Regions from separate parts of the Homo sapiens genome. Here region 1 is linked to region 2. Evidence: fine-mapped expression QTL. Tissue or cell type: nucleus accumbens. Region 2 holds a variant in brackets; the other region holds the start of a gene. All regions are shown on one strand. Distances are from middle to middle.

The links. PIP is the estimated chance that this variant, and not a neighbour inherited with it, causes the effect.
Region 1: FAM133A starts here. The variant in region 2 is fine-mapped to the expression of FAM133A in nucleus accumbens (GTEx, PIP above 0.99).

The regions. Positions count from the first base shown.
Region 1 is chrX:93,671,131-93,676,521 of GRCh38, reverse strand. FAM133A (family with sequence similarity 133 member A) reads right to left here and starts at 2,316. Exons shown (of 4, transcript NM_001171109.2): 1 at 2,248-2,316; 2 at 1,770-1,841. It overlaps NAP1L3 (nucleosome assembly protein 1 like 3), which reads left to right and starts at 2,944. Exons shown (of 1, transcript NM_004538.6): 1 at 2,944-5,391. The coding sequence starts at 3,218. The coding sequence ends at 4,738.
Region 2 is chrX:94,477,798-94,483,188 of GRCh38, reverse strand. No RefSeq gene overlaps it. Among named protein-coding and RNA genes, the nearest start is that of MIR548M, 580 kb to the left of the region's middle. The variant AACTTT/T (reference allele first, on the strand shown) is at 2,471.

The sequences.
Region 1 (5,391 bases), 810 kb after region 2:
AGGCCAAAATCATTTTACCTTTAGGATTTCACCATTGATTAATTTCTTGCTTAATTCAGTGGCAAAAAAATATGAATAGACAATTCTCAAAAAAACATAAACATATGAAAAGACAATCTTACCACTAATCTAAGAAATATGAATACATAATATTGATAAATTAATTTGGAGATGTTGATTACAAATGTAAGTAGTGATTACTTCTCAGTGGTATTTTGAGTTACTTTTAATTTCTTCTTTGTATTTCAATGTATTGCCTGACTTTATCAATGAACACATATCATCTTCACAAAATGTAAAGTTATCTTAAAACCGACTCATTAGTTGTTTGCAGCAAACGTCTGACCAATGGATCAGAAAAGAATTTAGAGACAGACCCAAGCAATTTATTTAATGTGATCAAAATAGCATTTCAAGTAAGCAGGAGATAGAAAGATTACCAAATAAATGGTACTAGAAGAATTAGCTAGCTAATAAAAATAAATATTTTAAAAATCTGGATCCCTAACTCATGACTGACTCTAAAATACTAATTCCTAATGCTACAAAGTTTAAAACATAAGAGCATACATTTTTTTAAATCTCCATAATTTAAAATAAAAATAGTAAGTTTCAGAACAATATTTATGGTATAACATCAATGACGTAAATCATTGTTTCTATAACATATGTTTTGATTAAAATTATTCAACGAAAGGATATGCACTTAGTAAATTTCATTCACCATTATACTACAATCCTCTACCACATTTGCCCGGCATATGACAAGCACAAAAATATATTAGTTGAATAACAAAAAAATGAACTTTATGCACTGTTGGAACTGTAAATTGTGATAATAATTCTGCAGAGAGTTTGGCAATATGTATACAATAATAATTTCATAATATGAAATGATCATCCCCAAGCCATCCATTTCTAGGAATTTATCTTATGACCAATTTTCACAAGTGCATAGAAATACATGCTTTAGGTATCCAGGGACACTTTGATTATAGCAGGAAAATAGTATGTATTTAAGGGGAGAGATGGTATAGAAATGGCCACCCTATAACAGGAATCTGGTCAAATAAATTAAGGCAATTATTTCCATGGAATATGCACTTACTTAAAAATAAGATGTCGATCATTTGCCATGAAAATATAGCCATTAGTAATTGATAAATTAAATGAAAAGATTACAAAACATAATATGGTGTCACATAGATAAAGCAGTATACATAAATAGGCAGGTATGTATATGCACAAGGAAATTTCTGGAAGGAAGTGCATCAAAATGCTAGTAATTCTTATCATTTGGTGGTTAAGATTTTGTGTTTTTACTACTGTTGGAATTTTCTATATTGTTTTATCTTTGCAATGTTCACAGACTTTGACAATTAGAGATAAACAATAAAAGTAAATGCATTTATGAAACAGAAAAGCGTTTCCTAACTTTTAAAAAACGTGATTACATGACAAAGCACAAATTCTATAAAGATTAATCTAACTTTAATACATTTCCTCATTTGAAATGAATAATTTATCATATTTCATATTTTAATTTACCACTTGTATTCTATGACCAGGTTTAGATAGTTAATGCGGTTAAGTATGTAATTGTCTACATTAGTATGCCAAATTACCTCTGTGGATTTTCCTGTTTCCATAGAATTATCAAGATAATTCTCTAAAATAAATCTTTAAATGACTGTATCCTGTAAACTTTTATTCAGATGGAGATGAGTAATTTTTGTCATTCTTTAAAATGTGCTAAATATGATCCTTACCTTTCAATGAAAAGTAAATACTCGTCTTTTTTATTGTACCAAGGGAGTTGTTCTGTAGCAGAAAAAAAAATCCTGTAAATAAAAATAACAAATACTCGTTTTTAAACTTCATTTTGCAAAAGTTTATTCACATATTACTGGACTTGTAAATCATACTATAGTATGGCTAGAATTTTACAACATTAGAAGGAAATTGGTGGCAGATGACATCGCATACACTGACAGAAGATGCACATTCATTAGCACAAATTCCCCCTCCCATCCCACTGTTCTTGGAATTGAAACCTGCTGCACAAAAGTATAACGCAAATCATTTGCTTTTTAACAATACTACCTAACATTTAATACCTCTTTGTTTTATCTACAAGGTTGTTACAAGCATTGAGAAGGGCTACGTGGCAAGTTAGCAGCAAGGTTGGGGTATATAATATGCCAGCCTAAAAAGAGAAATATAATAAAAATGGTGTAACTGACTCACGGCAACATGGGTTCGCAAACCTTGTAGATGGATATAAACCAGGCTTGCCAAACATCACAGACAGCACTTATTAAATCAGCTTCGTGGAATGCAATACGCCTGCTGTCTAGTCCCTCCCTCCTCTGCCAATAACCGACTCTCCCCTTTTTTATCCAGTGTAAAAATGCATGCTCATAGAATATTTAGAGAAAATCGTTTTGTTTTTAAATCGTCCATAGTCACACTACCCAATGACGCCATTTGGACCATTTTCATTCAATTTTTTTTTTTTTTTTTTTTTTTTTTTACAGCTTTTTGTCAAGAGACCCGTGACAAACTAAACGGGAATTCAGGGTGGGCGGATGGGAGAAGGAAGACACGCCTCTTTTGCCCTTGTTAGGAACTATGGCTGGTATTTTTACCTCATGTCTACGCTTTTTTTTCTTTTTTAATTATAAAACTATAAATATAGACTTTTTGGGGGGCAGGGGGACACCTTCCAAGGGGTCGCACCTCAGCCAGCGAGCGGCGTCTGGGAAGGTGGGCGGAGCCAGGAGTAGTGGCGTTTGGCCGTTCGTTGGGCGTACAGTTTGTCAATTAAGGTGGACCAGCAAATGAGGAGCGAACTAAAGGCACACTGGGAACGAAATTAACGGGAGGTCTGACTGCAAGGGGAGGGGGCTCGCGATCTAAAACGAGAAGAGATCTCGGGGTCTCATACTGCGCCATTCGGCTGCGGTACATCTCGGCACTCTAGCTGCAGCCGGGAGAGGCCTTGCCGCCACCGCTGTCGCCCAAGCCTCCACTGCCGCTGCCACCTCAGCGCCGGCCTCTGCATCCCCAGCTCCAGCTCCGCTCTGCGCCGCTGCTGCCATCGCCGCTGCCACCTCCGCAGCCCGGGCCTCCGCCGCCGCCACTCAAGCATCCGTGAGTCATTTTCTGCCCATCTCTGGTCGCGCGGTCTCCCTGGTAGAGTTTGTAGGCTTGCAAGATGGCAGAAGCAGATTTTAAAATGGTCTCGGAACCTGTCGCCCATGGGGTTGCCGAAGAGGAGATGGCTAGCTCGACTAGTGATTCTGGGGAAGAATCTGACAGCAGTAGCTCTAGCAGCAGCACTAGTGACAGCAGCAGCAGCAGCAGCACTAGTGGCAGCAGCAGCGGCAGCGGCAGCAGCAGCAGCAGCAGCGGCAGCACTAGCAGCCGCAGCCGCTTGTATAGAAAGAAGAGGGTACCTGAGCCTTCCAGAAGGGCGCGGCGGGCCCCGTTGGGAACAAATTTCGTGGATAGGCTGCCTCAGGCAGTTAGAAATCGTGTGCAAGCGCTTAGAAACATTCAAGATGAATGTGACAAGGTAGATACCCTGTTCTTAAAAGCAATTCATGATCTTGAAAGAAAATATGCTGAACTCAACAAGCCTCTGTATGATAGGCGGTTTCAAATCATCAATGCAGAATACGAGCCTACAGAAGAAGAATGTGAATGGAATTCAGAGGATGAGGAGTTCAGCAGTGATGAGGAGGTGCAGGATAACACCCCTAGTGAAATGCCTCCCTTAGAGGGTGAGGAAGAAGAAAACCCTAAAGAAAACCCAGAGGTGAAAGCTGAAGAGAAGGAAGTTCCTAAAGAAATTCCTGAGGTGAAGGATGAAGAAAAGGAAGTTCCTAAAGAAATTCCTGAGGTAAAGGCTGAAGAAAAAGCAGATTCTAAAGACTGTATGGAGGCAACCCCTGAAGTAAAAGAAGATCCTAAAGAAGTCCCCCAGGTAAAGGCAGATGATAAAGAACAGCCTAAAGCAACAGAGGCTAAGGCAAGGGCTGCAGTAAGAGAGACTCATAAAAGAGTTCCTGAGGAAAGGCTTCAGGACAGTGTAGATCTTAAAAGAGCTAGGAAGGGAAAGCCTAAAAGAGAAGACCCTAAAGGCATTCCTGACTATTGGCTGATTGTTTTAAAGAATGTTGACAAGCTCGGGCCTATGATTCAGAAGTATGATGAGCCCATTCTGAAGTTCTTGTCGGATGTTAGCCTGAAGTTCTCAAAACCTGGCCAGCCTGTAAGTTACACCTTTGAATTTCATTTTCTACCCAACCCATACTTCAGAAATGAGGTGCTGGTGAAGACATATATAATAAAGGCAAAACCAGATCACAATGATCCCTTCTTTTCTTGGGGATGGGAAATTGAAGATTGCAAAGGCTGCAAGATAGACTGGAGAAGAGGAAAAGATGTTACTGTGACAACTACCCAGAGTCGCACAACTGCTACTGGAGAAATTGAAATCCAGCCAAGAGTGGTTCCTAATGCATCATTCTTCAACTTCTTTAGTCCTCCTGAGATTCCTATGATTGGGAAGCTGGAACCACGAGAAGATGCTATCCTGGATGAGGACTTTGAAATTGGGCAGATTTTACATGATAATGTCATCCTGAAATCAATCTATTACTATACTGGAGAAGTCAATGGTACCTACTATCAATTTGGCAAACATTATGGAAACAAGAAATACAGAAAATAAGTCAATCTGAAAGATTTTTCAAGAATCTTAAAATCTCAAGAAGTGAAGCAGATTCATACAGCCTTGAAAAAAGTAAAACCCTGACCTGTAACCTGAACACTATTATTCCTTATAGTCAAGTTTTTGTGGTTTCTTGGTAGTCTATATTTTAAAAATAGTCCTAAAAAGTGTCTAAGTGCCAGTTTATTCTATCTAGGCTGTTGTAGTATAATATTCTTCAAAATATGTAAGCTGTTGTCAATTATCTAAAGCATGTTAGTTTGGTGCTACACAGTGTTGATTTTTGTGATGTCCTTTGGTCATGTTTCTGTTAGACTGTAGCTGTGAAACTGTCAGAATTGTTAACTGAAACAAATATTTGCTTGAAAAAAAAAGTTCATGAAGTACCAATGCAAGTGTTTTATTTTTTTCTTTTTTCCAGCCCATAAGACTAAGGGTTTAAATCTGCTTGCACTAGCTGTGCCTTCATTAGTTTGCTATAGAAATCCAGTACTTATAGTAAATAAAACAGTGTATTTTGAAGTTTGACTGCTTGAAAAAGATTAGCATACATCTAATGTGAAAAGACCACATTTGATTCAACTGAGACCTTGTGTATGTGACATATAGTGGCCTATAAATTTAATCATAATGATGTTATTGTTTACCACTGA
Region 2 (5,391 bases):
ATGGATTCACAGCCAAATTCTACCAGAGGTGAAAAGAGGAGCTGGTACCTCCTCTTTGTTCCTTCTGAAACTATTCCAAACAATTGAAAAAGAAGGGACTCCTCCCTAACTCATTTTATGAAGCCAGCATCCTCCTGGTACCAAAACCTGGCAGAGACATAACAAAATAAGAAATCTGCCAGAGACACAACAAAATAAGAAAACTTCAGGCCAGTATCTCTGATGGACATTGATGCAAAAATCCTCAATAAAATACTGGCAAACCAAATTCAGCATCACATCAAAAAGCTTATCCACCACGATCAAGTCGGCTTCATCCCTGGGATGAAAGGCTGTTTCAACATATGAAATTAAATAAACATAATTCATCACATACACAGAACCAAAGACAAAAAGCACATGATTATCTCAACAGATGCAGAAAAGGCCTTTGATAAAATTCAGCATTCCTTCATGTTAAAAATTCTCAATAAACTGGGTATTGATAGAACATATCTCAAAATAATAAGAGCTATTTATGACAAACCCATGGTCAATATCCTATTGAATAGGCAAAAGCTGGAAGCATTCCCCTTGAAAACCTGTACAAGATAAGGGTGCCCTTTCTCACCACTCTTATTCAACATAGTATTGGAGGTCCTGGCCAGGGCAATCAGGCAAGAGAAAGAAATAAAGCGTATTCAAATAGGAAGAGAGGAAGTCAAATTGTCTCTGTTTGCAGACGACATGCTTCTACATTTAGTAAACTCCATCATCTCAGCCCAAAAACTCTTTAAGCTGATAAGCAACTTCAGCAAAGTCTCAAGATACAAAATCAATGTGCAAAAATCACAAGTATTCCTTTCTACCAACAATAGACAAGCAGAGAGCCAAATCATAAATGAACTCCCATTCACAATTGCTGCAAGAATAAAATACCTAGGAATACAGTTAACAAGGGATGTGAAGGACCTATTCTAGGAGAACTACAAACCACTGCTCAAGGAAATAAAACAAGACACAAATGGAAAAACATTCCATCCTCATGAATAGGAAGAATCAATACAATGAAAATGGCCAACTGCCTAAAGTAATTTATAGATTCAATGCTATTCCCATAAAAATACCATTGACATTGTTCACAGAACTAGACATAACTACTTTAAATTTCATGTGGAACCAAAGAAGAGCCCATATAGCCAAGATAGATAATCTTAAACAAGAAGAACAAAGCTGGATGCATCATGCTACCTGACTTCAAACTATACCACAAGGCTTCAGTAACCAAAACAGCATGGTACTGGTACCAGAACAGACATATAGACCAATGGAACAGAACAGGGACCTCAGAAACAACACCACACACCTAAACCATTTAATCTTCAACAAATCTGACAAAAACAAGCAATGGGAAAAGGATCTCCTATTTAATAAATGGTAGTGGTAAAACAGGCTAGCCATATGCAGAAAACTGAAACTGGAACCCTTCTTTATACCTTATATAAAAATTAACTCAAGATCTATTGAAGACTTAAATGTAAAACCCAAACCCATAAAAACCCTAGAGGAAAACCCAGACAATACCATTCAGCACATAGGTATGGGAAAAGACTTCATGACAAAAATACCAAAAGCAATTGAAGCAAAAGCCAAAATTGACAAATGGGATCTAATTAAACTAAAGAACTTCTGCACAGCAAAAGAAACTATCATCAGAGTACAGGCAACCTACAGAATGGGAGAAAATTTTTCCAATCTACCCGTCTGACAAAGGTCTAATATCCAAAATCTACAAGGAACTTAAACAAATTTACAAGAAAGAAACATGCAACCCCATGAAAAAGTGGGCAAAGGATATAAACAGACACATCTCAAAATAAGACATTTATGTGGCCAAGAAACATATGAAAAATAAAAGCTCAACATCACTGATCATTAGAGAAATGCAAATCAAAACCACAATGAAATTCCATCTCATGCCAGCTAGTACAAATTGCTCATATTTTAAAAGTAACCAGTATCAAATTGGAAAGGATTTGATTTAGGAGCCAAACCAAGGCTATCATAGTGGAAAAAAAAAAAAAAAGAAAAAAAAAGACAGAACCTTAACAATGGATCTGCAGTGTGGGGCAACAGCCATTGCTCTTACCATTCGGCTTGGCTAGCAAAATGTGGCCCTGTTAGACAAATAAAGTCCCTTTTTTAGTCAAAAGAAAAAAATCTCTCCCCTTTTTATTTTGTGGGAATTTAGACACTTCAGAGGCCTTGTTCCCATAAATTGGAACTTTCCTTCAGATTTCATCATGTCAGATAGAGTTGATCAAACCCAGTAGGAAAAAGACTGAAACAATAACAAAAACAGAAACAATTACAAAGGCAACAACAACAACAAAAAAAAACAATTAAGCAAAACAAATGAATATTACAATTTATATGAATACTGAGCACTCTAATGGTAAAGATAAATTAACACCAGCTGATTTTTAATCTT[AACTTT/T]AGCCCACAAAAAAACAAACAAAAAATAAAAATAAAAAAAAAACAATTCAGCTACTTACCTAGGAATGGGTCTTAGGCTGAAGACTGCTATCTACCATCCTAGAAGCAGGAAAAAACTCAGACTTGCCTTCCCTTTTGGAAGTTTGCTCAAACTCCAGAAAGGACTTACCTTCCTTCCAACATCATGGAAGCAGGAAAACTTGCCTTCCCTGTAAGAAGCAAGTGAAACTCCAAAAGGAGGAGTTGTACAGCAAAATAAGCTTTAGATCTTAACCAAATTTGGGGAGATCAGGGATTTTCTGGAGGGGGAGCTTACAGGCCTCAGCAAATTGCCCTATTGGTTTGAGCCATAAAAAAGCTCAAGCTGGTACCAAGCACCTATAGGAGATTCGTCAAAGTCAGGGGCACCTCCCCTCAGAATCCCTCTGTGGTTACTGATTGTGAATGCAAAATATCTGACACAGGTCTCAGTCAATTTAGAAAGTTTATTTTGCCAAGGTCAAAAATACACCTGTGATACAGCCTCAGGAAGCCCTGAGACATATGCCCAAGGTGGTCAGGGGTATAGTTTGCTTTTATACATTTTAGGGAGACATGAAACATCAATCAATATGTGTAAGATGTACACTGGTTTGGTTCAGTAAGGTGGGACAACATGAAGTGGGGCTTTGAAGTTAGAAGTAGATAAGAGAAAAAAGGTTGGATTCTTTTGAGTCTTTGATCAGCCTTCCACTGAATACACAATTTAGTCTGGCTCACTGAATCTGCATTTATACATAAACAATAGGGGATAGGGAGTAATCAAACATGTATTTGTCTCAGGTGAGCCTCGGAGGGATGACTTTGATTAGAATGGGAGGCAGGTTTGCCTGAAGAAGTTCCCAGCTTGACTTTTCCCTTTAGCTTAGTCATTTTTGGGTCCCAAGATTTATTTTCTTTTGACACAAATTACAAAGAAACAAAGACAAGTTAAAACCAATGTGGTGATAAAAATTCACTTTTATCTATATTAATGTTAATGTAATGTTTTACATTTCCCAATTATCAAATTATGCAAGGGAATTATAAAACAAAAATCATATTTTGAAGAAGCATGCAATTTCTTAAAATAATTTGGAGAAAATGTTTTTCTAGAACATAGCTTCATGTTCCTATTTGATTTCACCTTTGATTGTGATGTGGGTGTTTTATTCAAATAGCTACTGTCAAATTTCCAGTGCTTTAAATCACCTAATTAACTTTTCATTTTCACTATTGGATAAAGTTAGACTTATTCCTTGGCCTAGAAAGCATTTGCTTTTTCATGTGGTTTCTTTTCTTTATGTAATTTTATGTATTCTCATTTAAAAAAATGAGATAGGTGAACTATGTTAAAATATATATGCAAAACATAGCTTATCTTAGAATTACAACATTTTCAAATGAGGAAATTTAGTTAATTTAATTATGAATCTATGCAAGTATTTATATACAGACTTCAAGCATATTATGGTTGTTTTTCCTGGTGGAGTGACCCAAACCTTCATTTCTGAACGGTCTGAGCCATTGTTAGTCCTGCCTCGATTGAGCTGTTATAGTTTCCCATTGACTTTAATCACAGGGCATGGTAATACTAAGAGATGCCCCAAGGGATTGCCTGTATTCTGTGCATACTCTTCCTTACCCCCACTGTGGAGTAGTAGACTGATTTCATCTTGATAGTCCGGGTCAATGACCCCAGCAAACACTGTAACTCCTTTCTTAGCTTGTTGACTTAAAGGTAGGAGGAGCCCAAAGTGTCTAGGAGGCAATCTTAACTTCCAGTTTAATTGAAACATGTGTCTCTTCTGGTATTAAGACCTCTAGGCCAGCAGAATGTAACCTCATAGGAACAAGAAGGAAACATTTTGCTAGTGGATCACTAGGGGTGATGGTGAGTGGTGTCACTTCCACTTCCACCCCTTGATTTTGGGACCTGTGAATCCTGGCTATGGGAGAAAAAGTACCATATATTGGATGCTGATTTAGAGCATTCCTGGCCTTCTGGAGAACTTTGCCCCAGCCCTGAAAAGTATTGTCACCTAGATGGCACTGTAATTGTGACTTGAAAAGGCCATTCCACCATTCTATCAGTCCAGCTGCTTCAGGATGATGGGGAACATGGTAAGATCAGTGAATTCTATGAACATGAGTCCACAGCCACACTTCTTCAGCCGTAAAGTGAGTGCCTTGGTCAAAGGCAATGCTGTGTGGAATACCATGACAGTGGATAAGGCTTTCTGTGAGTCAAAGGATGGTAGTCTTGGCAGAAGCATTGTGTGCAGGATAGACAAACCCATATCCAGAGTTGGTGTCTATTCCAGTGAGGACAAACCTCTGCCCTTTCCATGATGGAAAAGGGCCAATATAATTAGTCTGCCACCAGTTAGTTGGCTGATTACCTTGAGGAATGGTGCCATATCGAGGGCTCAGTGCTGGTCTCTGCTCCTGGCAAATTGGTCATAGCCAGATCAGCCTTGGTGAGTGGAAGTACAGATTGCTGACCCCATGCATAATCTCCATCCCTGCCACAATGGCCACTTTGTTCATGGACCCATTGGGCAATGACAGAGCTGGCTGTGAGAAGAGGCTGAGTGGTGTCCACAGAACGATTCATCCTATCCACTTGATTATTAATCTTCTCCTTTGCTGAGGTCACCCATTGATGGAAATTCACATAAGATACAAATATCTTCACAGTTTTTGACCACTCAGAGAGGTCCATCCATATACCTCCTCTCCACATTTCTTTGTCACCAATTTTCCAATCATGCTTGTTCCAAGTCTTTGAACATCCAGCTAAACCATTGGCTATAGCCCATGAATCAGTATATAATCACATATCTGGTCATTTCTCCTTCCATGCAAAGTGCAGAATTGAGTTCACTGATTGAAATT